3 linked regions of the Homo sapiens genome follow. The protein of the gene in region 3 interacts with the protein of the main gene of each other region in a pairwise test. Each region holds a gene or a part of one and is shown on either strand. Other genes may lie near its edges. The genes, in order: GOLGA1, PAX9 and SLAIN1.

Evidence for each region.
Region 1: the proteins of SLAIN1 (region 3) and GOLGA1 interact in binary tests that used the Homo sapiens proteins (3 or more experiments, as listed by UniProt).
Region 2: the proteins of SLAIN1 (region 3) and PAX9 interact in binary tests that used the Homo sapiens proteins (3 or more experiments, as listed by UniProt).

What each region holds. Positions count from the first base shown.
Region 1 is NC_000009.12:124,937,975-124,945,386, forward strand, and holds the start of GOLGA1 (golgin subfamily A member 1), read right to left. Parts: upstream 3,110-7,412; 5' UTR 2,997-3,109; exon of another isoform or gene 2,866-2,996; intron 2,832-2,865; exon of another isoform or gene 2,392-2,831; intron 2,182-2,391; 5' UTR 2,132-2,181; intron 893-2,131; 5' UTR 738-892; coding exon 603-737; intron 1-602. UniProt on the Homo sapiens protein: Involved in vesicular trafficking at the Golgi apparatus level. Involved in endosome-to-Golgi trafficking. Mechanistically, captures transport vesicles arriving from endosomes via the protein TBC1D23.
Region 2 is NC_000014.9:36,664,839-36,671,949, reverse strand, and holds part of PAX9 (paired box protein Pax-9), read right to left. Parts: intron 5,489-7,111; coding exon 5,349-5,488; intron 1-5,348. UniProt on the Homo sapiens protein: Transcription factor required for normal development of thymus, parathyroid glands, ultimobranchial bodies, teeth, skeletal elements of skull and larynx as well as distal limbs.
Region 3 is NC_000013.11:77,749,661-77,756,771, reverse strand, and holds part of SLAIN1 (SLAIN motif-containing protein 1), read right to left. Parts: intron 3,570-7,111; coding exon 3,414-3,569; intron 1-3,413. UniProt on the Homo sapiens protein: Microtubule plus-end tracking protein that might be involved in the regulation of cytoplasmic microtubule dynamics, microtubule organization and microtubule elongation.

The sequences.
Region 1 (7,412 bases), on a different chromosome or scaffold from region 3:
CGGGAGGCTGAGGCACGAGAATTGCTTGAGCCCCAGAGGCAGAGGTTGTGGTGAACCAAGATCAGGCCACTGCACTCCACTTTGGGCTACAGAGCGAGAATCCATCTCAAAAAAAAAAAAAAAAGAAAGAAAAAAGAAAAAAAGCAACATACTGTAATCACTGGGGCCATCTTTCCAACAATCGTCCCAATACAACAATGCACTCTTGCTAACCCCATACCACAACTCAGAGACCTTGTTAAGCAGCAATGACTTAGTTGTTATATAAGTATATATGTCTGCAATGAAAACAGGCCCAGACATTTTCAGAAATGAAATGCAAAAGAAGATGTATAAGGTATATAGACGGAAAAACAGTACAAGAGGACACTGGAGAGAATATGGAGAGGAACTCACAGAAAAATAAGGAAAAAAATATAGAGTACCTTAACATTTACAAACCAAACATTAACAAAAAGGTACCTCAGAGTAAGAAGAATCAGATGTACAGGCTCTTGTACAGCTATAAACCATGAAAGGTATGAAATAATCAAGCAATTTAAAATATTTATTGGAAGAATACCCTGCAAAAGTATCTTTATTTCTTAAGTAAAGGTACTTACAAAGTCATCTCCTGAGTCAGCTCCCATTGAGGCAACTGATTCCTTGCTCACAGACCGTGGGATCCTAGTAGCACCTCCTGGCCTCTGAGCAACAGCAGTCTCTTCTGCAATTTTCTTCTTCAGTTTTGCAAACATGTTTGCTGTGTGGCTATCCTGCACAGATGACGAGCTCTCAGTAGTCCTGGTGCCTGTGTTCAGGATTCAGACAGAGGCGCCTACAAAGTTTCAGACATCCAAGCTAGCTGCATTCCCACTTAAATGTGGGCCAAGGGCTTATGGCAACACAGGATCTACAAATCAGATGAAAGAGACAGTTCAAAAGTTAAACATTGGAAAGATTTCGCATCTGAGTTGTTAAGTTTTAGATTTCAAAACTAAGTTTCATAACTTACATGTACACTTATAGAACACAATTACTAAACATTTAAAAAGCACTCAGGTGCTTCATATGCATATACAGATGAAGAAACCCAGTCTCAAGAAGATGAAGTAACCTACCAAAGATTGTGTGGCTAAGTGGAAGGGCTGGTATTTGAACAGAGGACTCTGATTCACAAATCTCTACGTTTTTTTTTTTTAATTACATGTTGGCTATGACATATAACACACTTGGTAAAATGTCCCAGAGCAGACATCAACATCATATATTCATGACTTAATGATTTCAAATCCTTCCTCCAATAAGCTTAACTACAGTTTAGTGTTCTTTAAGTTGAAGACAAAAATGCATGTAATTCAATTCATATGTAATTCAATATTCAATATGTAATTCAATATGTAAAAGGTGTAATATCCTACTGTTTCAGGATGGTTTGCAATCAACTGTCCAATAGGAAAAGCTGGTAACAGAAAAAAGAAGACACACCAGACAACTCTATTATATAAGTATCTGATATCCTTGAACATTTTCTAGAGACGCTGTGTGGTTTTGAGTTTGATAAAATTACCTCCAATGAGTTTATTTTCTTTCTTTCTTTTTTTTTTTTTTTTTTTTTTTTTTTTTGAGATGGAGTTTCGCTCTTGTTGCCTAAGCTGGAATGCAATGGCACTATCTCGGCTCACCGCAACCTCCACCTCCTGGGTTCAAGCGATTCTCCTGCCTCAGCCTCCCGAGTAGCTGGGATTACAGGAATGCGCCACTATGCCCGGCTTATTTTATATTTTTAGTAGAGACGAGGTTTCTCCGTGTTGGTCAGGCTGGTCTCAAACTCTTGACCTCAGATGATCCACCTGCATTGGCCTCCCAAAGTGCTGGGATTACAGGCATAAGCCACTGCGCCCGGCCTCACAGTTTCTTTTCTTAAGAATGTTTGACATGATATTCAAAGTAAGATTCAAAAACCTTTTCCTCCTAATGGTGTATAAAACACTAATATTCTGGTTCCAACCTTAACTTTCCATGTTTTGTGGAGGATACCTAAGCTCTGCTCTGAGATACACAAATGCCATCTTACCACTTCAGATCCTCCATTAAGGCTGTACAATTCTTCAGAAACTTTACTTTCAATGTGTGTAAACCACTTACTCACCTGGCTTATCTACTAGATTTAAAACAGCTTGGAGGTCAAAGCATTCTGTCCTGCATGAAGACAAAGATAAAATGCATTGGGTATTTCTTTTCAAGTGTATGGCCAAAATGTTGGGTGGGGATAGGGGGAAGAAGTGAAGGAAGAGGAGGGGCAGAAGAAGGATTAAAGGGGGTAAGAAAACCTGTCACAACTCTCAATGGGATACCCTCCCTAACCCTGATCTCCTATGAAATTGTTTTTTGCCTAAGAGCTTCACTTACAAGCGCATAGAACAGAATTGATCACCGCAGCGGGTGCCTAAATTCACTTCTCCCTGGGAGCCCTGAGCAAAACAATTTGAATGAGGTTAAGTTTTCCTGGAGCCAGTATTTATTTCTCAGTTGATTACTACACTCACATACTGTTTACCCGGCCAGACCCTGGGCGTCTGGTCACGGATGTGCACTGACAAAAAGCAAGGCAAAATTGGGTAAAGACAGATGTCTAACCCCCAGGGAGGCAGGCAGGTGCCTGCCACGGCAGTTTGGATCTCACTCCCTCAGGCTACCTCCAGCCCCGCCCGTGCTTTGGACTGTCAAAGAAAGGAAGGATCCAACATCTCTCCCATTTGACAGCAAGGAAACTGAGCCCTAGAGAGGAGGAGCGACTTGTCCAAGGTCGCGCAGGGAGGAATCCCGGAACCCTAGGCTCCAGACTCCCAGGCCGGGGCAGCCCGCCTCCGCCCCCACTCTCACCCTTTCAGCACCCCGGTGCCGCCCCCCGCCTTGGGGCTCGGGCAACCCTGACCGGGCCGCTGTGGGGACAGACCGAGGCCACTGGGAGAATAAGGGGCCTGCTCGCATTCCCGGAGTCCTGGCCCGCGCACCTGCCTCTCTCTGGGAAGCCAGCAAAGCCCCGCCTCCCGGGCCTCTCGTGAGCCCCGGCCCGCGTCACCAACCCCCACCGCCCAGCCGGCGAGCCGAGCAGCGACCCGGAACCGCACGTCTCCCAGCGCGCCGGAAGTGACTGCGCGGTGGGGGGAGGGGGTTGGTCCGACGCGCGCATGCGCCCGTGCGCGGCCTTGGCGGCTACTGTTACCACCTCTGAGCGGCGACTGGGCCGGAACGGCTGGAGTTCTCGGGTGCCCAGCCGGGCGCTCCCTCAGCCCAGTTCGCCACGTCAGCGAGCGGCCAGAGCCACAGATGATGACTGAGTCTCCGAGGCCTCTCGGTCTTTTTCTATTTTAACAGGGGCGCGTGCAGAGCGTGGTAAGTGGGAGGGGCTTCGTGTCAAAAGTAAAAGAACCCAGTCGGTGCCACAGGCCCCGCTGTGCTGTGCTGGCTACAAACCCGGCCGGGGCTGCACTGCTTGGCCAGGCGCCCCCCCGCGCCGCCCGGTCCCGCCGCACCCTAGGCAGCTGCCTTGCCACCGTGTGACCCGGGAAGTCTGCGCCTCCAGCTTCACTCACAAGCCAGTAGCTCCAGAAACTAGTCCTGGGACCTTACACCTTGAGACCAGTTTTTAGACTTTGGCGCCTGTCACCTACTGTAGATGATGCGTTTTATATCGCAACCGAGTACATAACGTCCAGCAGAACCACGTTCTTACTATGTAATGCACTTAAAAACGCTGGTGGCAGCTCACTATATTGGATTAGCTTCACCATCCGCTGCTGGGCCGTCTCCTTTCTGCTTAGGAAGGAAGTTGAAAACATCAAAAGTGCACGGCGCGCGCTTCTGTGGTCCCAGCTACTCGGAAGACCGAGGTGGGAGGATCTCTTGAGACCAGGGCTTCCAGACCAGCCTGGGCACCGTGGCGAGACTCCGTCTCTTTAAATAAATAGCAATCATGCAGGCAGTAGGAAAATAAACAAAAGAGGAAAAACTATCTTGTTCCAAGTCACAGTCCAGGCCGGGCGCGGTGGCTCACTCCTGTAATCCCCACACTTTGAGAAGCCGAGGCGGGTGGTTCACCCGAGGTCAGGAGTTCAGACCAGCCTAACATAGCGAAACCTCGTCTCTACTAAAAATACAAAATTAGCCGGGCATGGTGGCCCATGCCTGTAATCCCAATTACTTGGGAGGCTGAGGCAGGATAATCGCTTGAACCCGGGAGGTGTAGGTTGCAGTGAGTCAAGATCGCGCCATTGCACTCCAGCCTGGGCAACAAGAGCGAAACTCTATCTCAAACAAAAAGTCACGGTCCAAATCAGTACCCTAAGTCAGGTCCCTGAACTCGTCAATGCCAAGCCAGCCATTCCACCTTAAGGAACTCTGGTTCCATCCCCAGACTCAACACAAGCCCAAGAATAAGCAGATTCCACCCAATTCTTCAACAGTCCCTTCCCTCGCGTGTTCCAGTTCTGACCTGCAGGAGCAGGGCAGGGAAAAAACCAAAACCAGGATTCAAACATTGACAAACTAACAAGAAGCATCAACCCCAAGATAGTTCAAAGCCTCTGAGATATTTGAATGAAGCAAACCCTAACAGTTCAGCTGTCAATACCGAAAAAGTACCAAAAACTTTAAGCAAATAATGTTTATTTTTATATTGATGATACACTTAATATATATGTGGATTCAAGGTACAAAATTCATGTACAAGAGTTCACACCTGATGAATGTAGACACATTCCTAGAGAACATTTATCAATGTGAAAATTTCTTTAATACACTGACAACAAAAATCAAATATTCTCTAATCTCGTTATTCAATAAACATCAAAACAACGTTTCAGTTTTCATCCTCTAGTACTGAAGTGCCCTCAAGGTGGTAGGCACTGTATAGCAGGAGAAAACATTGGAAAGCCTACTGAATCCGCTCTGCAGAATCACAGTGTTTACTCTGAAATTCATTTAGTGAAGTAGTGGAAGGCTATCTTTTATGACAAATCACATCTCATACAAGAGTCAAAAGTGATGAACTCAAGAAAATAAAATGTTTCAAGAACTTCTCAATTTCTAAAATCTATGGAGTATTAACCATAACAGACAAAGAAGAAAAAGGCTGCTGGAAAGGAAGAAAAAAACATCCTGTTTAAGAGAACGTATGGCTTAAGCAATTTAGAACACAACTGACAAGACTTTTACAATACCACAAATGTTCAAGTCAAATGATAGTGACAGTATAATTTTCCCCTTAGTCATTGGTAGTAAATAGCCCCTTCAAAATTTATTCTACTGTTAACACATATAAAAACTATGAATCCAAACAGTTTTGCTAACGGGGCTGAGTTGATGGATTTTTTTCTAAAGTATTAACTCACAATATCCAAATATTAATACAAATGAACGACAAGATTGTTTCAAAGATTACAGTGATTTGTGAATAGCTAAATAGGCAACCAAATAGCTTCATTATTTGCACGACAGATTAGCAGCACTTGGATAAGAATTGTTACATGAAAAATATTGTGCTTCAGTCTCTTGAGGAGAGCTAATATAACTCTATAATCCCTATAGTGTTAAAATTCTATAACATTTCAGTTACAGACAAGCACAATTGTTAAAAAGTATTTCACACCACTAGAAAATCGAGTAATTATATCCTCCAAATGAATTACTTCTATGATTTAAACAAGTGCATTTCTGCCTAATAATCAGAATGTAGACAATAAGTTCAGCATTATTTTCAAGGGAAAAAGATCAAACATAACTTATTTTAACTCCTATTTGATTATCTTAACCTTTAGTGATGATTAGAACTTAAAAAAGGGAAACTCAACCTTCCAATGGAAACTGCTCAGAGGAAATAATAAAGTGTCCTGAAATTACAATAATTCTTAGCACAAAGTAAAAAGTGATTTATAACTGCTTCATCTGATTCAATGATTAATGAAATCACTATTTATACTGGTGCTACACAACGAAGATAACCTATATGGATAAGTTATTTTACTTGTAAACTCTACTATGAAAATGTTAGGACTTTGTATTTGCCTTTCCTATTATCTAAGATGTTTCTACCTCAACTGGAAGAATCATCCAAAATCTAAAGGTTTCTCTGATTGTTGAACAGCAAGGTTTATTAAAAATAAGCAAAAAAGTTGGAGAACTAGCCATATGGTCTATGTGGCAAAAGGAATGCATTCAGATAACTATAAAAAGCCACATAAATCAAGTTCTAGATTATTGTACTGAACCATTAGAAGGTCTTTTTAATGATACAGTAACAAGTTAACAAAAACCATTCTTCAGGAAATAGTAATAAAAATTCCTTTTTTTTTTTTTTTTGAGAATGAGTCTTGCTCTGTCACCCAGACTGGAGTGCAATGGCACGATCTCGGCTCACTGCAACCTCCGCCTCCCAGGTTACAAGCAGTTCTCCTGCCTCAGCCTCCCAAGTAGCTGGGATTACAGGCGCACACCACCATGCCTGGCTAATTTTTTTTTTTTTTTTTTTTTTTTTGTATTTTAGTAGCGACAGGGTTTCACTGTATTGCCCAGACTGGTCTCCAACTCCTGAGTAATAAAAATTCTTATTGTGCTAAAACACTAAGCAATTTTTCCTGCAGATTTTTAATTTACCACAGTACATAGTTTTAATTTAGAAAAAAAGCAATTAGTAGCATGCTTCTTTAAGGGTGGAAATAAGCTTTTTAAAAATACAGTGGTTATCCCTCTATGGTTTGGAAGTATTTACTTTTGGGATTCTCATGTATGATCATTTCAAATTTTATACTTATTCATACTGATTTCATGTTTGAGAAAATTTATGGTTCAAATTGTAATGTTTACAAATCTCAACTTTTAATCATGGCAAAGTGGACATTCACAACAGCTTCAGAAGAGAAAAGAAAATCAGTGATATAACAAACATTTAAGTATCATTTACGGCAGCCCTATAAGAAGGCTAGCCATAATTCCCTATTTCATTCTGAAAGTGATATCCTATTAGCTTTCATTCCATAAGCCTAGGAGAAAAGTATAAAACCTAAAATTACCTATGTCTTAAACAATATTACACCTAAAAAGATGATTGTCGTAGTAGACAGACTGGAATTGTCCACCAAAATAGGAAATTGATACCCAATTTATAGTCTATGATGAAATTTAGGCTTGAATAAGTGAGTTTGTAGTTTTAATATAATGTACTTCAAACTATTAAAAAAACTGAGTCTATTGTCCAAGTATGTTTAAACATGGCACTGGTTAAAGTAGTCTGATAACTATTAAAAAGAATTTTTTTTAGGCCGGCCACAGTGGCTCACACCTGTAATCCCAGCACTTTGGGAGGCCGAGGCGGGTGGATCACTTGAGGTCAGGAGTTCGAGACCAACCTGGCCAACATGGTGAAACCCCAT
Region 2 (7,111 bases), on a different chromosome or scaffold from region 3:
AAGCAAAATAGACTAAATTGCATACCCTAGAAAAAGTAAGTTACTGCTTTGTTTTAATACTTTTAGGAAAAGACCAACTTCATCACACTGACATTAACGGAAATAGTCTAGAAAAAAATATATAAGATGCAATGTAGTTCTTCTAGTTAAGGTTATCACAAGAAGAATGAAAGTACAAGTTTTAATTTCGTTTGTTCCAAATGTTCAAAATACAGATTTACCAATTTTTTAAAAGTAACTTTGGTGAATATGTTGAGGAACTGTATTGGCAGAGGGCTAGATTGTAAACTGTCTGAGGACAGGGACTTGCCTTAATCATCTTGTATCCCCACAAAACAGGATACATCATAAGCATTCCACAACCATATGTATATTTAAGTTAGTATAGGTTTGTGAAAGCAAAAGATGTGACACTGTAGCTTAAAAAACAAAGCAAAAATGTAGGCACCGTTTATCACAAAACAAGCATTACACTTTAAGCAAGCAAAATGAATAAAGCTGTTGAAAAAAGTAAACAGAAGTTCTAACCTAGCCATTTATTACTTGATTTATGGTTATTCCATTTATCCTCCCTCCTCCAAGTAAAGGAAAATACGTTAGTATCAAAACACTTGTGACCACCATAAAACTGGTATGGCAAATGTCTGGCAGTTAGAGGTTATAGACCATTATTCAAATTCTGGGAATTGTCTACTCAACATTATTTATCGTGAAGATAAATGCAAATAACAGTGCCAGGTCCTCTACCCACAATCTGCTTTCACTTATCAGTTCAACCTGGTCCTCTTATGATAAAATGAATTTACCTTGGCTTTATAATAAAGTAGATTTAGCCACAAATAGAGATGTGCTTCACCTAGAATTTCAACCTCGATATCATAAGCAAGAAAAAGTTTTGGATCTGAAAATAAACAAGATTTTCTCTTTTTTGGTGAACTCATTTTTCTGTCATTCTTCCATTTTTAATGCATTATGCAATGACCTAGTAAAACATACCTGACAAAATGAAATGATGGTTATAAATATGGTTTCAACATTCATCCAACAAGATCTTAATTATGCTTACTTATCATATTGTAGATGTAAATGTCTCTAAGAAATGGAAAGCCGCTATTTAAAAGCTTTTCTAAATTTTATAATTTTCCAAAATATTATTAAAATTGACATAGCCTTGAAAAATTTGCAATTACCTTTCCCTGCTATTTTATACAATACATTTTACTGATACATGATCATTAATTTTATTTTGAAATACTACTGGTTAAAATGTAACCAGGTCAAAGAATGTTTTTCATAACAGATAACATTATGAATTTCAAAGACACTCTGCTGGCATTTGCCTAAGATTTCATTGTCTATAAATCATAACTTATTTACAAAAATTAACTTTAATATGAAGACAAATTTAGTGCAATATCATTTATATCTTCCTGAGAATAGTACATCCACAAGGACAGCCAGTTTTTAAAATAATACACTAGAAAATCACATTCAGGATTCTAGAAGACTATCTTCACTTCAAATGCATGTGCAAGTAAATGCTTCATAAGAATTTCAGATTATATCTTTAAATTCAACTATTTTCACAACTTAATTCTGAACTTTTAAAAAGTTCAAGTATTTATAGACTATTCTCTATTTCTGACATCTCAGTCTGTAGCTAGTGTTATATTAAACTTGCCAAATTAATATCTGCAACCCCAAAATGAAGATACCCAAAGCTTATAAATCTGTCACTCCAATTACTTTAGAGTATCAGATATGCAATGTATCTTTCTTGAGACAGTATGCCCATTTGTAGAAAATTTTTCAAGAACTATACAATTATTTATATATAGTTTGAATAAAATTGAGGCATTAATTCATGAAATACTTCCTAAAAGGGCAAATGTATTCCAGTCCCTATGATTCTCTATATAAGGTTTTTTGGCCACTCAATTTTATTCCATTGGAGTTTTATGCTTTCAACAGAAGAGAACCGGCCATCAGGAAGCAGAGAACATTGTTGCCATTCAGAAGTAAATGGAATTAAGTACTTCTAGCCCCAATATTAACTGTGGGTATAAAAAAGCCAAAATAAATATTCTATCCTCAGAGACAATAAGGACTTCTGAATGGCACTGCAAAATATTAATTACAATGTAATATTAATATGTAAGACAAGTTAGAATATTCTACACTGAATTTTCAAAGACAAAAGATAGGTATATGCATAGCTGAAATGTGCATACAGTTTTAATTACTAGGAATCAGGACATCTGTCTTTACAGTTTAAGCTGAAAATAGAAACTCTAGATTATGGTAATCAATAGTATCTATACTCAGTTGCATAGTTTAGCCCTTTGGTAATTCTACAGATGTCCTCAAGAAAAATATGCTTTAAGCTCTATGATTCTGAATTCTCAATTTCCTTCTTTGTATAATAAAATTAAACTAGTATCATATAATTTTGCACTATTTAATAACAATCACAAATGCCCTGAAAGTGGGAAAAATTTTAAAGCTTTTTTTTGGCCAAAGACATTCAAGTTATTGTCCATAATATAAGCAGAGGGAAAAATACGTGTTACCAGAGTTTACATTTTGGTTGAAATATGCTGATTCCATTTTGAAAAATAACTTTTAAAAATAAATCTGCCCTTTGAATATTGGTAAGAGAAATGCACATATATGGGCAACACTTTACCTTTGTATGTTTATAAACAAGTATTAATGTGCAATTTAACCTTACATGAAATCAATGTCTAAAGTTCAAAACTGCTCAGAAAAATGGCACGGCTGAACTTGGCACATCTTCAACATTAAGCACTATTTTGATAATTATCATAGAGTAGCCACTAATTTATATTATTCTTAGAAACTTTTCAGGTTTTGAAATTTTACATCATTTGAATTATCTAACTATTAAATACATTGCAATGCAGAAGATTAGCATATTGCAATTAAGAACTTCGCAAATGTAAGTTTCATATAAATATTTTTATTCTGGAAAAAATAGCTTATTAAGTATTTAGAGCAATATTTATTTGGTTACTTATTTCTTTAAATTATATTCTTTTATAAATGTGATAATTTAGTGATTTAAAATTTAGTATATAAAATGTAATCTATTTTTAATAATCAGAATATCAATTATTTAAAACTTCAAATTTTTTATTTTAAATAATTTGTCAGTTTAGTTTTGAAGTGTATTATAAATTAAGCATTTCCAAACAAATTTCAATGTTAGATCTATAATTCAAGGAAGAGAAAATAAAAATTACTGGCCGGCACGGTGGCTCACGCCTGTAATCCCAGCACTTTGGGAGGCCGAGGTGGGTGGATCACGAGGTCAGGAGATCAAGACCAGCCAGGCCAACATGGTGAAACCCTCTCTCTACTAAAAACACAAAAATTAGGTGGGTGTGGCGGCGCGTGCCTGTAATCCCAGCTACTCAGGAGGCTGAGGCAGGAGAACCGCTTGAACCCGGGAGGCAGAGGCTGCAATAAGTAGAGATCGCGCCACTGCACTCCAACCTGGCGACAGAGCTAGACTCCGTCTCAAAATAAATAAATAAATAATAAGTATAAAGGGTTTTTTTTGGGATTATGACTGCTTGATATATAAACTGGGTTCATCAATGACATGTGGGAATTAGAAACTTTTTCAACTCTATACTTCACAATGTTATTCCAATCAATGATGACCTAATAAAAAGCACTGAGCGCCTATTAAATGCTTGCTTCTATGGTAGGTGCTTTATATACACTCTTTCTATTGTTTGTAACAAAATCTCTTGAAGCTTTTTGACTATGGTCTCTCAGAACAAAGTATACTCTGATAAATATTACTTACTTTTACACGTGTCTTTTTAACTGCCACTTAGAACCACAGACAATACTTAATAAATGCTTACTATGTGCCATATGGTTGCATTATCTCATTGAATACTCATAACATCTCTGGGTTGGGAATATCATTTCCCTGTTTTAAAGATGAAGAAATAGAGACTAAAAATTAAATATTTTCCTAAGAAGTCGTACAGCCAGAGATCGGAGCTCCTAACCATTGTACTATTCTGCCTTTTCTTTGCAAATTACGAATTAAGGGTGGGTCGTTTAGTAAAAGAAAATGACAAACTTCCTTATCATTTCTCATTGACATTCTTCACAGTAGAAACAGACTAAGGAAAAGGGCTCTCTTTCCTTGCTATTTTCTGTGTTATTTGCCATTGGAGAGCCACTAATATGTATTCTGATTCTATTTCAACAAAATAAGAGAGGGAAGAGGAAGTGGAAATGGGATTTGTTACAGAAAATAATGACTAAGATGTTTTTTCAAGTGAATAAGAGGAACAAATTCCACTTAATTTTAAAAGCTGATTTTGACAGACAAAAAAGCATTAAAAATTTTAAGTCTTCAAAATAATAAAAGGAAAACTGAATAGCTTGAGGCTTTGGAATTGAGTTTGGGATTAAGAGATTTGCAAACCTACTGGGGTCTGCTGGGGAAACCTTACATTGCCTTAAGGTCCGGTTTTTTGAGAGTTTTGAACTCTTGACTCCAGGACGGTGATGAATTTAGACTTAAATCTGGGGCTTTTGTTGTGGTGGTTGTTTAGCTTTTCTCGGGGGGAAAATAAAAACACGAGTGTTTTAAATTTTCCTTTGGAGACATGAGGGAGGGACGGAGGGAAAGAAAAATTAAACGGTCCACAGCCAGTCCGTATAATTTGAGGTTTTCTCACTAACTTCCTTGGGAGATTACAATGTGACCTTTAGTCGAGAAAATGGTAGCTTTGTTACGTTTATCTGGGTGCCCCTCTCCGCAGGATTGGCCAAGCGTGTTTGTCCGAGAGCCACCGGAGAGAAAGTCCGAACGTGAGGACCCCGCAGCCGCAGTCGCACCGTGGGGCCGAGACCCGGGGCGCGCGTTTCGCGGGCGTGAAGGCGCGGCTCTGAGGCCCCAGGGCTGCTCCGCTCGGCCCTTCAGAAGCGCCTTCTTTGGTTAACTCTACCCCCAACGAGAGCCGCCGAAAGGGCTTCGGGAGCCGCCTCCCCAAGCTCCCGGAGGCCGACAGGCCTGGAGGCGCTTCCCAGAGCCTCGCCCCGGGGAGCTGCCGCCCCAGACCCCCAGCGCCCTGACGAGCGCTCCCGGCCCCTGGCGGGGGTCGAGGCCCCAGCTCCGCCTTCCAAGGCTCAGGCCTCTGCTTCGCCCCAGTCCACGAAGGATCTGGCTCGTAGCAGCAAAGGGACGCCAGCCTGGGCTTCTCTCGCGGGAAGCTCAGAAAGGGACCCATCACAAAGTGTTCCATCGCCTAAATCCCCGCCGCCACGCGGCCCACCTGGCCTGACCCTCGCCTCCTCACCTGACCGTACTTGGCTTCCTGCTCCAGGGCTCCCTTCTCCAACCCGTTCACCGCGTGCGGGGCGGCGGCGGGGAAGTTGTTGCGGCCCAGGCTGCTCCACTCCTCCACCTTGGGGCTGTGGTAGGGGGAGCTGTCGCTCACTGATGGAGAGAAGAGAGGGTGTCAGGCCGGAGGCCCAGCCCGCGCGCCCCACTCTTGAGACGGGACCCAAACCCGCGACGGAGAGCTGGAGGGCTTAGACCTTGGGTCGGCTCCCTGCCCTTGGCCTCCCGAGGGCGCTGGGCCCAGCCGCGACCTCCTGTGCTTCCAGCCCAGGGCCTGGTGAAGTTTTACTCCCCTCAGAGTAGGCCTTTCCAAATTCTCTGACCCACGCCTGAGGGAAGACACTTTTTTCTTTTTCAACCGGTTTTTGATTTCCCTTCGCCCCTTTGCTCTCCCAGGGCAAAGGAGTGGAAGAAACCTAAATCGGAGAAGGAACCCTTAAGGCTGCACGTGCCGTTCTCCACCTCCTCATTCTTAACCCAAGGCCGACTGGGGGTTGACAACAATTTGGCAGTGGGGCTGGCTGAAAAGAAAGAGAGGAGCGTCTGACCTAAGGGTGCCTGCACTGGTGCTCACTGCACTGTGGGGATCTGGTACTTATGTCAATAGAGAACAAAAAGACCTGCACTGTCCTTTGCAAACAAATAACTAAATTATTCCCACGATACAGTGCAAAATATACATGCACAGATTTCTGCTTTGTGTGTGCATAGGGCTCCCCTTGATACACTACCTCTACACATTACATATGTGATATGTGCATATGACTTAAAAATAAATCTTGCAATTACCACTATACATGCCATGGGTGTTAGTGGCAGGGTTTTCCTGAAAGAGTTTAAAAAATGTATATACAAGAAAGAGAAAATGAAATAGGTTAAGAAAATGAAAGTAAAATTAAGTGTTAAGGTGTAATGCCATCAGTTATTCTTTCTGTTCTTGGTGGAGATGCAAAGAAAATTGTATGGTGTAAAGTAATTACTATAATACCTGGGGTTGAGAATATTGAATTATTGGCATTTTTCAGTGACCAGGTATAGTTTCAAAGAGATATGTGAAGGCTACAAACAATGTATGTTTGTCTTTGGGTCCTATGGGTGGAGGAGTGGTTTGGCAAAGCCATTGTAACTTGATTTTAAACACTTCCATCTAACACAGTGCTTTAAAAGAGTGAGCATTTTTGTAGAAATGATCATTTTTATAATCACAAATGTGTCACAAACTGGGTTGTTTAAAGCTGGCATCCAAAATCACAATAATATCTGAAAGGAAAAGTTGCTCCTTTCCATTCTCCAATACTTTCCCAACTGACATTTGCTCTGATGGTAGGATCCCTAGGCAGGAAAAGTTTTCTTTTAAACTCTGTCAGCCTTTTTTTTTTTTTTTTTTTTTCACTATGTCTCCTCCTCTACCACCCCCAAGAATTAGATTGAGTCCCATTTGCACCAGGAAACTGTGTTTTGGTCCAGAACTGCCTGTCTGTCTTTGCCTTCCCAGACAAAAGGCAGTCGGTGGGCACAAGCTTGAAGTTATCTTAAGAAATTGAGATCCCCCTGTGAGCCCCCATTTCTGCTGATCTCACACTTTCCCATGAACAGGGGCTTCCTTTAAATGTCAGTGAGGTCAGTTTATCCTATAAATCAAGGGCAAACTCTCTCCAACTATGGCTCCAAGTAGCTCCAAATAAGACAAAACTGGGCTCTTGTAAACTTGCAGTCAGA
Region 3 (7,111 bases):
TTTCACTCGACACTTTGTCTGTGAGATTCACCTGTGTTGCTGTATTACTAAGCAGTATTCCATTGTATAAATGTGATTATTCCCCTGATGACAGAAAGCTAGGTTATTTCTAATTTGGGGTTTTATGAACCTCCTTGAACATGTTTTGGTGATCATATGCACTCATTATGTTGGGTAACTATTAGGAGATATTAATTTAGCAAAGTTGCTGGATTCAATATCAAAACACAAAAATCAATTATATTCAAAATACCAGCAAACTAGTAGAAACTGAAAGAAACCTGAGGAAATACTATTTATAAAAATACTACTTATTAAAAATCACAATACCTAGAAATTAATTTAACTATAGAAACATAAAACCTCTATATAGAAAGCTACAAAACTTCACTGATATTAAAGACCTGAGTCAATGGAGGACTATTACATATTAATGGATGCAAAGACTTAATATTGTTAAGATCTTCCAAAAATTGATCTGCAGAGTCAATGAAATGCCAACCAATTTCATTTGAAATGAAATTACAGAACAGTTTATTCAGGAATAGAGTCCTACTATCTCTCCTACATGTAACATATATAACCACCCTTGATTTAAAAAAAAACACATAAGAGAAACTAGTTAGAATTAATAGGCATAATCCTAATTTTACAACTGAGAAAACAAGACTGAGAAAGAATACTTAACTTTCCAAAGAATTTATGATTAAGAAAAGACCCAAAACCAGGTCTTTGACTACAACTGTGTTCCTCCTTCTATACTTGCAGCCTTTCCAACTCTCTATCCTACCTCTGTTCTTTCCAGAAAGCAAAATGGCCCAGAACCAGAAATTGTCATGATAGGAACTTAGAATGCATAAAGAACAGTGGCTTAGAATGCTCAGAAATGAAAGTAAATGAGAACATAATCTTAAGATTTGAAACAAAAGTTATGAGAGTCCTCCTTCTCCTACACTTTAATATTCTTCTTGGGGGCTTTCTCTCAGTATTATGCTTGACTTAGAAATGATGATTTTTATATTTTCCTCATTGCTTTTACACGCATGAATTGGAATCTACTACAAAGAGGATGTTCCCCTCTATTTATCCAATTAAGTATGAACCCATGCATATTTATTTTATTCCATCAGTTATAATCCATTACTATAATTATTTACTCTGTGGCTCAAACTGCCCCAAATTTGGCCATTAGGAGGTTCCTTCAACTTGGTTCCTGTATCCTTTTGACATTTTCCCGTCATTTTGGGGGCACTTCAATCAAGGCTGAACATTCTTTGCAGTGTACATTCTATTTTGGGCTACATACATTTTTCTGGCACTCAAATCTGCTACTAATACACATTGAGTTGGAGTCAACAAAAATTCCTAATTGTTACTATATTTGCTATTCTCCAAACTGTATTTCTCCCCTCCCACACTTACACTATTGATTTTTTTTTTTCTTTTTTCAAGACAGGGTCTCATTCTATCTATTGCCCAGGCTGGAGTGCAGTGGTGCAATCTTGGCTCACTGCAGACTCAACCTCCCAGGCTCAAGTGATCCTCCTACCTTGGCCTTCCAAGTAGCTAGGACTACTGACATGTGCCACTATGCCTGGCTAATTTTTGTATTTTTTGTAGAGACGGGGTTTCATCATATTGCCTAGGCTGGTATGTTACTGATTTTTGTAATTCAGACATAGAATTGTATATTTCTATCAGCTAAATTTCTTCATGATACATTTGGCCCATTCTCCTAACCTCCTGACATAAAATGAGTTGTTAGTCCTCTCGGTTTCTACTATTGGCAAATTTCATAGGTTGTTTATGTGTCCTTATACAAGTCATTGGTTCTAAATATTTAATAGGTCAAGCCTTAACATAGAATCCTGTGGCATTCATTCAAGCATTCACTGAGAGTTCCTTATGTTCTGGCAATACGTCAGGCACTGGGAACAGAAAATCAAATAAATGATGGCCCAAGCCCAGAGGGAGCTTACAATCTAGTAAGGAAGACAAACATATTAATAGTAAAACATGGTACATTGAATAACAGAGGTAAGCACCGAAAATCTAATCCACTCTAGTATTGTTTGGGGGGTATTTGAGAAAGTGTGTTAGGGTGATTAAGTAAGCAATGAAGACTTCCAAAGGCATGGTATTTGGACTGTGTTATAAAAGTAAATAGGAGTAAACTGAACGAAGAAGGAAAAGGAAGAATGCTAGGCAGAGAAGAACAGCACGTGGAGCTAGAATATGATAGCAGTTAAAAGCTCTGGGAGTAACCAGACCTAGGTCTGCCTCTCTGCTCTTCCAACTGTATGGCCTTAGACAAACTGTTCCTTAACCTATCAGAACTGTTGCCTCTTCCACAAAATAAGAATGGCAGTAGAAACTAATTCATAGAGTTGTTGGTAGAACTAAATAAGATAATGAATATAAACTAGTTAGCACAGTTCCTTGTACAGAGTAAATGATGTCACTTGGTTGTTAGGAACTAAAACATAAAGAAATGAAAGATCGCTGCATGTTAGGGAGATACAACCTGACACCTAAAACTAAGTTTGAGGGAGAAAAGCTACAAACCATTTTGGATGCAGACTTAAAACATCCGGTTGACGACTCTTGGCCAGTACACTCAGAACATGCTCAGCCTCCCAAGTTTGGGCATTTTTATGAATACTGGTAATATAACCTTGTGCCTTCCTCCTGGAAGTCAGTGTAAGACTTAACTGCAACAACCCATATAGACAGCATGAGTAGGAATAGGGGGATGCCGAAGCAGCACATCCCCACATAAAGTGAAGATACACAGCACTAGGCCTAATGCTAACTGTGTCACTCACTGCTGGGTAAAACATAGAAAGTAAGTAACAGAATGTGGGGTAAGCTAAATAGAGTGGACAAAAACTACTTTAGACACTCTAAAATATAACTTCATTTAGGGGGAAAAAGACAAAAGTATGCATAGGTGAAAAACAAGACAAAAGGAACGGCTAAACAGAATTAAGTGTGCTTATTCAGGTAGACAGCTAGAAGGAGGAGGATCTGCAAGGAAAACAATTTTTGTATGATGAGTGGATAAATCAATCACCATGTAGTACTTCTACTATCCTAGGATATAAAGGACTACAAATAATTTACTATTATTATACAAATAACAATTTACTATTATTAATTGATACCACAGGCACTGGTAAGTAATTTATACCACAGGCACTGGTAAGTTGAATAGTAAATATACTATTTGAATAGTAAAAATACTATTCAACTCTAATGGTGAAATAAAAAAATAAGTTACACGGCAAGGAAAAAAGTTTAGTGTTCTTTCAAGTAAATACAAAGAAATAAAACAGACATTTTCCTTACAATTAAAAATTATAAAAAATTATACAATTATACAATATATAATTATATCAAATAATTATACTCACTACAAGATTGTATTCTTGAAATTCCATTTCCAGCTCCATGCAAGCTTGAGTCAAAACTCTGACTATTTCGCACGGTGACCGGAGAACTAATGTTGCTACTAATGGCAGTTGTACTTGGCATCCGGGCTAGGTTAGGCATACTTCTTCGGAGCTTATCTGGAAAAGAATTTTACTAAGTTAAAAATGACAGATGTTATGCAACCAAAGTACTAGCTTTCAAAAGCAAATAACAAAAGTCATATTGTGCTCAATAATAAATACAAATTATTACATGTTGATGATCAAGCTTTCTAACCTATTGTACAGGAAAACACCCTTCCCAACCAGAAGGGTTCCCACCAAATAAGCATGTGTGATGGTTAATATTGAGTGCCAACTTGATTGGATTGAAGGATGTAAAGCATTGCTCCTGGGTGTGTCTGTGAGGGTGTTGCCAAAGGAGATTAACATTTGAGTCAGTGGACTGGGAGGGGTAGACCCACCCTCCATCTGGATAGGCACCATCTAATCAGCTGCCAGCATGGCTAGGATAAAAGCGCAGAAGAATGCAGAAGGAGCAGACTTCACCTTTCTCCTGTGCTGGATGCTTCCTACCCTCGAGCATCAGACTCCAAGTTCTTCAGCTTGTGGACTCTTGGACTTACATCAGTGGTTTGCCAGGATCTCTCAGGCCTTTGGCCACAGACTGAAGGCTGCACTGGCGGCTTCCCTACTTTTGAGGATTTGGGACTCCGACTGTCTTCCTTGCTCCTCAGCTTGCAGACAGCCTATCATGGGACCTCACCTTGTGATCGTGTGAGTCAATACTCCTTAATCAATGCCCCTTCATATATACATTTATCCTGTTAGTTCTGTCCCTCTAGAGAACCCTAACTAATACAATGTGTTAAAGGAGAACGAAACTTCTATAAAAAGACTTAGGGACTAGCTAAGCAGTTAGCTATCTGTTCCTATTCAATAAGTGGCTAAAACTATATTTAAAAAGTTAGAAAATAATCTTATAGCCATTAAATTTACCAAAACAACCCTAGAAATTAAGTTACATGCTTCTTAAAAAAAAAAAAAAAAAAGAACCCTAGAAGAATCAAAACCAACATTTACTGAATCTTTTGCTACCATATCAAAATGGAACAAATTAATAAAATTCAAACTTCAGATGTCTTGAAATATCCACTCATCACATTAACATGACCACATTAATCTCTGGAAAGTTTTAACTTTCATGAGTACGCCACCAAATGTTTGCAGATAAAAAAGACCAAGAGAATGCTTCAATTTTTTTGCCTTGCTAAGTTCATCTTCTGCCACCAAGAGGCAGCAGAGAGTCACATACAGATCTCAATGTTGAGATGTGTGAAATAACACATGTGAAATAAGCCAGCCACAAGACCACAACTCTATGAGACACTTTTTCCTTGATCAATACACATCCCCCAAAAACTAAAGTACCTATGTCAGGTCATTTAAACTGAAAAAAAAAGCATATATACGAGTACTAAGCCATAACTAATTCAAGGACAAAACTAATTCAAGTACTCGATTCCACTCTTCCTAGAGCACAGCATGCGTCACCCACTTGCTGAAATCCCTCCAACTCCTCAATTCCTCCCCTGCTCCCTCTTCTGAAAGGCCAAGCTCCTGAGCACAGCCCAGATGAGGGCTTCAAGGCCCAGGCTCTTTATACTTCTCCAGCCTGGCCTCTCAGCCTGCTCCCCGACCACAGGGGTGAACTCTCTCATACCTGTGAGCAGGCTGGTCCCTCCATGTGGACACCCAACCTCACTTTGGAGAAGGAACAAATGAACAAGGGAACAAACATCTATTGTGTTTACACTAAATACCAGACACTCTGTGAGCTGTTGGGGATACCACAGTGTATTAGGCAGATACAGTCCAGAGTCTCATTGAGTTTATAGTCAAGATTTATGGTCTAGGTTTATAGTCTAGACCAGTGCTTCTCAATCCTTCCCCACCCATTGTTGATCCTAAAGAGAAAATCTAAAATAAATTTAATTAAACTTAAAATTAAATTTTTTCCCAAATAAAATAAATATTAAAGATTAACATTTTGATAGGGGTAAACCATGGAAGATCATAAATCATTGTAATATCTAAAATTTTTTTCACCCCTCCAACTTACAAGATATTTTTATCTTTATTGATATATACCGCAAAACACTAAAGTGCACATATCAGAGCATTCAATCTTGTGGTCATTTTCTTTCAAGCAAAACCAGAAAATAATGATATACTTGAATGCTAATCCAAAAGGCATTCAAGTCAAAATCAAACTCAGCTCTTCTTATTCCCCTTTCATACACTACTCCTTTGACATTACTAACACCTATTAAATGTTGCCATGTCCAGCAATTTTTGCTCCCTTGGGGTGGAAAAGGCAGAAGATTAAACAAGCACAATAAGTATACTTAGATAATATGTATAATAAGAGAGCATAAAAAATTGTAGAGAGTGCTATGGTAGAAAGCACAAAAGAATATTTTACTCATGTGGGTCTTACTAATACTTTAAGAATTGGCACAATTATCCCCACCATAGAGAAGCTTTTCTATGGACTTCCCAGCTGGAAGTATCTACCTCTCACACATTACTTTCTGTGTGTAGTTCTAGAGTAAGGATGCTCAAATATTGCCACTGACTGTTAGATTCCTTGGCAATTTTCCTCATTATCTTCTTGATGCCTATTTTTAACAATCATACGTCTCGTATTCCCAAATTCCTATTAAAGTTCCCAGCCTCACAGAGCAGGTACTTTATATATCAGCAAATATTATGTGTATGATTTGGCAGACAGTGTGTAGTAAGAAGGGAGGAATTAGAAGGATTCATCTCTACATAATCTTAGTGGCCATATCTAGATCTTTTGACTATTACAAAAACTGGTGTAAAAAAGACAGCCTCTATCAGTACTAGACTATTTTCACTATACATATTTCCAATACATATATTTTTAAGCAGCAGGGAGGCACAGGAACATAATTATATGCTATTGAGAAAATTAATTGAGCTTCTATATTTCTTTTTAAAATCTCTCTCCAACTATTTACTATAATAGTTTTCATACATATAGAAATGTTAAAAAATAGTATCATAAACACCTGTTTTTCCACCTGGCTATACTGGTTGTTTCCATTTTGCCATATTTAATTCATCTCCACATGTACTTTTGTTTGCTTTGCTAAACAAGATAAAACTTCAGACATCTTGACACTTTAAATGCATATTGATCTCCTGAGAAAATTCTATGGAATCACAATATTGTAATCACATGTAAACAAATTAACAATATCATATGATAATCTGCATACAAAATTTTTCAGACATCCCAAGAATATCTTTCACAAGCTTTTTCCTCTAAACCACGATCCAATCAAGGTCCATACGTTACATTTGGCTATGCCTCTAATCTGTGTTAGTCTTTAAAACCAATCTTTACTCATATTTAAGCAACAAGTCAGTTTCACAAAGCTTTAATCCTGAAATATGCTCTTAAAAATAAGGTCTTCCAAGTGTAAATATTTAGGACACTATTCCCCTTGGAACAAAGCTGTGATCTCCAACTTGTGTCAGACCATCTGGAAATGAGGTACATTTCCTGTCAAACAATGTGGAACGTTTTAATAACCACATATTCTTTAAAGTTCAGGGAACCAAAAGTAATGTTCTAGTTCTATCTTCAC